Linked DNA regions of Homo sapiens: region 2 is linked to region 1. The links come from fine-mapping of genetic effects on gene expression. Tissue or cell type: whole blood. Region 1 holds a variant in brackets; the other region holds the start of a gene. All regions are shown on one strand. Distances are between the middles of the regions.

The links. PIP is the estimated chance that this variant, and not a neighbour inherited with it, causes the effect.
Region 2: SH3BP5 starts here. The variant in region 1 is fine-mapped to the expression of SH3BP5 in whole blood (TOPMed, PIP above 0.99).

The regions. Positions count from the first base shown.
Region 1 is chr3:15,258,492-15,261,248 of GRCh38, reverse strand. SH3BP5 (SH3 domain binding protein 5) reads left to right here. Exons shown (of 9, transcript NM_004844.5): 6 at 1,446-1,488; 7 at 2,199-2,418. It overlaps SH3BP5-AS1 (SH3BP5 antisense RNA 1), which reads right to left. Exons shown (of 3, transcript NR_046084.1): 2 at 667-2,615. Among named protein-coding and RNA genes, the nearest start is that of SH3BP5-AS1, 5.7 kb to the right of the region's middle. The variant C/T (reference allele first, on the strand shown) is at 1,393.
Region 2 is chr3:15,331,177-15,333,676 of GRCh38, reverse strand. It overlaps SH3BP5 (SH3 domain binding protein 5), which reads left to right and starts at 1,091. Exons shown (of 9, transcript NM_004844.5): 1 at 1,091-1,406. The coding sequence starts at 1,269. RefSeq lists silencers at 983-1,382, 1,463-1,522.

The DNA of each region.
Region 1 (2,757 bases):
CACCATTTAACCATTTACTATTGCACTTAATTGACTAGTGTATTTTTGTTTTGGTTTGGTTTTTGGTGTGTCAGGGGCTGATCTCCTGAGAGCTAAGTAGTAGACGTGTATATGGCATTTTTCTGCAGGGGAGGCAGGAGGTGGCGAGGGTTGTTGTAGGACCTGTGCCTGCTCTGGGCAAGCCCAGGCATCATCCACATGCCAACACCCAAGGAGGCCGAGGAGCAGCCTTTGATGCTGCTTCCTTTGGTGTGAATATGGTGGGTCTTTTCTCAAAAGACCCCGAATTCACACTGCACACACATCACATACTCATCCATTAACCTGTTTAAGAAAATAAATCTTGTGATTGTACTTTGCCAACCTTTTCAGACTCCGAGAAGAGTACAGGGATAGATCGTAGTCTTGGGTGGCTCCTGTCTGCCCAAAGGTTAAAATGTACATCTGTGCATTCCACAGAGTGGCTTCCAGGCCACCTCCATGCCCACCCTGCCTCTCCAGCCACACTCCCTTGCATGGATGCTCATGTTCCTTTTGCTGGGACATCTTCCCTGTGCCCTCCGATGCCCATTCACACACATACTCTTCACCTTGTGCTCCTTTTGGTCACACGAGAGAGCTTATACACCTCTCTCTCCCCCCAAATTTCAGGATTTTCATACCCACCAATGGCAGTCCTGTGTCCTTGTCATCCATCTGGATCCTCAGGATGCAGGACTTGAGAGCTTCATGGAGGGTGAACAGCTCAAGAATAAAGCAGTGATCTACTCTTAATGTTCAGGCACCAAAGTTCCTAAAAAAGAGCCAAGCTCTTTCAGCTGACCCAGAACCAAGGGAACTGCTAGGACGCTGGCATTTCTTGGGCCCATTATGTGGCTGAGTCAGCCAACTAATAACTCCAGTCTTTGGACAAGGTTTGGGAGGACCAACCTGAGACCCCCTCCTAGTGGTGGCCTTGCTGTGCTGTGAGGGAGGAGTGGTGCTTCTCTCTCTTCCCCAGTTGACTTCAGTAGAGGAGGAGGTTTAAGCAGCCCCTTCTCCAGCCTCAGCTGCTCTTCATCCCTGGGGAGCCAACTTCATTAGGAGAGCAGATCCAGGCCACCCTTACTGCTGGGTATAACCTGTGAGGCTCTGAACAGCCTTCCCACAGAGGAGGAACATGAGCTAAGTTGCAGAGTCCCCAAGATATGTGTGTGTGGGTTCCCCGTGTCTTGAGATGGGCCTCCTGTTAATATAGCCCTGGGTGAGCCCAGTCGTTCCATCTGGTGTCTGTCAGTCTCCAGAGCTAGGAGCATCACTGACATGTCACGGCCTTGTTAAGAGTTTACTAAATATTGGAAGGACGACCTGGCCAGTGGTAGCTGATGCCTCTTGTTCATCTTGTGGAGTTGA[C/T]TGTGGTCACTGTATTATATTACTCTGATGGCTTTCCTTCCTGTCTTCTGCAGGCCTTATTTTGAACTCAAGGCAAAGTACTATGTGCAGCTCGAGGTATGTGTAGCTTTGGGCTTCGTCACTGATGAGATTTTTCTGCACTCAAAGCTTCACTTTTCTGGGGTAGCAGAGTATCACATGGGCCACTTGCTATAAGGGGAAAGTGGAGAGACAGGCTTTACTGAGTTTTCAGACCTCAAAATTGTCTCGGTTGGGTCTTCAGTGGTCTCTGAACCTCTGTAACTGCCATTCAGTCACCTTCTCTGTTGTACTAGGCCAGTGGTTCTCACAGCATGCTCTTAGGACCAGCAGCATCAGCATCACCTGGAGACCTGATAGACCAGGTCCCACTCTAGACCGACTGAATTAGAAACTCTGAGGTTGGAGTCTAGTGAGCTGAGTCTTAACACCCAAGGGGATTTTGATGCAAGCTCAACTTTGAGAACCACTGTACTGGGAACCAGATGTCTAGACTGTGGGACTTTGGTGTGTCTGATGCCCATTTTTGCTTCCCTGATGGGGTTTGTTCCACCAGTGAGAGTTTTTGGATATTAGAGGTTGTCACCTGGATGGGATCTGGGGATGGTGGTGGCTGATTTTGTCTGGTGAATGAATAGCAGTTACAATGGTAATTAGGTCTTCAGTCATGTCTTGGAAAATTCCTTGAAGTAGAATGATGGGCAGAAAATGTACTTGAACCTGTCATTCAGAAAGCATCTTAAGGCTAGCAGGGTAGTCTTCACTTAGTCTCCTGTTCTCTTGATCAGCAACTGAAAAAGACTGTGGATGACCTGCAGGCCAAACTGACCCTGGCAAAAGGCGAGTACAAGATGGCCCTGAAGAACCTGGAGATGATCTCAGATGAGATCCACGAGCGGCGGCGCTCCAGTGCCATGGGGCCTCGGGGATGCGGTGTTGGTGCTGAGGGCAGCAGCACATCTGTGGAGGATCTGCCAGGGAGCAAACCTGAGCCTGATGCCATTTCTGGTAAGTCAGGGGCTCCACTGGGTATGTGGGGAGATATCAGACTGTGTGATTTGTTTCCCAAGGTCCTCACTTTCTCTGGCCATCAGTGAAAGGTCTCAGAGTTGGGCAGGCCTGAGGGCTATTTCTGGTGGGTTCCCATGTTTTATGGAACACTGTGTTCATTAAGAAGGTACTAAGTGTTCCTCAAAGTCAGGATTCTGTGGTCAAATAAATTGGGAAAATGTTACACCTTCACTCCTCTTTGAGAGTCAAAGTATACATTTGAACATTCAAGGCTGAGAAGTCCTGCAGGAAAGAAGAGCTGTAATCAGATTTGATTCAAAGCTACCTTTACATCAT
Region 2 (2,500 bases), 73 kb before region 1:
CTGATAAAACCACCAGGAGCAGGACTATTTATTCATTTGAGAAGGGGTCTGGCTGTATTGTCCAGGCTGGTGTTGAACTCCTGGCCTCAAGTGATCCTTGTGTCCTGGCATCTCAAAGAGCTGGGATTACAGATACGAGCCACCACGTTGTGCCAGACCCAGGTTTTGTAAGGTGGCTTTGATGATAGGTTCTCAGAAAGAAGCTCCTTTCTCAAGCAAATTTGTCCTCCAAACTCAGAGCCGATGGGCTACAGGCCTCCGTGTAGGACATGTGCACGTTCTGCATTTCTCAAGGCAAGGAGACGTGAGCAGCCATGTGCTCATCTGCTTTGCCAAGGTCATCCTTTGCGTTCCCCTGACATCACAGTGGCCCTGACATTTCATAAAAGCACACACACGTGCCTCTTCAGTTTGGCCTTTTCGGATGCTGTGTCTGCCAGGCCAACTCTGTCTCCCTACTTGTTGATGGTGGGCAGAAAGTCTCACTAATTCATAAATTCTTGGCCAGAGTGTGCCCATCAACAGGGGTTACACTTGCCACCTCCTTAAATCCCAGCTCAATGCATTCTCCATGCTCCTGGCTATTCAGGTAGGACCGCCGCACCTCTGTGTTTCGGTATGGGGCTCGCCCAGAGAGGCCGCAGCCTTCGGCAATGCATCAGTGCACGGAACCTCCGCCATTCCCAAGGTTCGCTCAAGAGGATGAGTGTGCTTTGGGTATAGGGTTTCGGCAAGTCTTGGTCCTGAGGGCCAGGGTCACTGAGCGTAGGCTTCAGAAGGCGACTTCAGTGTGAAAACACCCACGCCTCCCTACCACACAAACAACGAGCCTCGGAGGAGGGCTGGAGGAGGGGACTCCCGAAAGCGGGAGGCTTGCGTTACGTAGTTGAGATATATCCGAGCTGCTAAGTTACAAGGGGGTGGGGGCTGTCCTATTTTGCCACCTTGGAGATGTGGAGGGAGCTGGGGTTTTGCGACGGAGACCTGGATAGCTGGGACTGGCGGCGGAACGCGAGGCCGGGGCGGGACGGGGGCGGAGCGGGCGCTGCGCTGACTGCCGCGGCAGAAAGGGGGCGGCCGCGCCCATTTCCTCTGCTCCGCCGCGGCCGGAGGTATCCGCATCGGCGAGCTGCGTCTCCCGGGTGTCGGCCCCGGCGGCTCCCCGACCGTGCCCGGCTGTGGCGAGGCGGCTCCAGCCCAGCCTGTGGCAGCCGCGACCCCCGGGGCGCTCCGGAGCCCACTGCGCGGCGCGCGTGCCGGCTGCCTGCATGGACGCGGCACTGAAGCGGAGCCGCTCGGAGGAGCCAGCCGAAATCCTGCCGCCTGCCCGGGACGAGGAGGAGGAGGAGGAAGAGGGGATGGAGCAGGGGCTGGAGGAGGAAGAAGAGGTGGATCCCCGGATCCAGGTAGGGCGCGCGGGGTCGCCCCGCATCCGGGCTTCGCGAGGGCTGCTACGGAGGTCGGTGTCTACGCGTACAGCCACTTCGCAGCCCCCAGTAACTGTGGTCCGGGGACTGGCGGCCACATAGGGTGGCAGGAGACGGTCTGTATGCTCCGTTTCATCGTCTCCACAATGAGGAGGCTACAGTGCCCGCGTGGATGCGGCCTGACTCTATTGCGGGGAGTCCCCCGCCGACCCGTAGCAGGATCGGGGTCGGTGCAGCGTGCCTGGTGGTTCGGGTGGATGTGCAACAAAGGGAAAAAGGGGGCGGGGGCGCCATGGTATCCTCGGGGGTACCCCTGCCCGGCCGCGGCACCGCGGGCATGGCACGGCGTCCAGGCTCTGCGAGGAGGTGTCGCCCGCGTGGGCGCCGGGCACCGTGGGCGGGTGGGCGTTGCCCTGCAGCGCGGGCTGGCACCGGTGCCCCGGGTGCAGAGTCCTCACTTGCCAAGGTGCCCGGCCTGAGCCGTTTTCCTTCTCTGATTGATTGTTAGCGAACTGAGCGGCTTATTGTCATCACTGGCTCAACGTTCTGCCTGGCTTGAAATTGCTTAAAACCCTGCTTTTCCTTGTTGTGAGGTTGGGCATGAAAAGAAATCGGGGACAACTGATGCGCAAAGCTGACGCGTGGAGGCGGCGAGGGGATTGGGCTGGCTGGCTGTGCCTCCATTTCCAAGAGAGATGATTAAAAAACAATTTCCAAGCCGAGATCTAGGAGTGACAGTTTCACCTCTTCACCCCTAAGCAAAAAGCAGAGCAAATCCCTTTCTAAGGCCCGTTTTTTTTCTACCTTTTCAATAAATCATTTTTTTAAAAAAATTGCTTTTAAGCATGCTCTGTAATTTCTGGATACCTAATTGGTTTTTTAGTGCACAGATCAATTTAAAAGCTCACTTAACTCAGTGGTTGGGGTTTAAATGAATTGTTTTGTCAGCTTAGCAAGATAAAGATCAGGTGGAAAAAAAATCCTTGCATTAGGAATGCTATTAATTAAAGTAATTGGTTTGGAATAAATCGTGTGTTACTGGTATGGGATTATGTTAGCAAGATCCTTTGTTT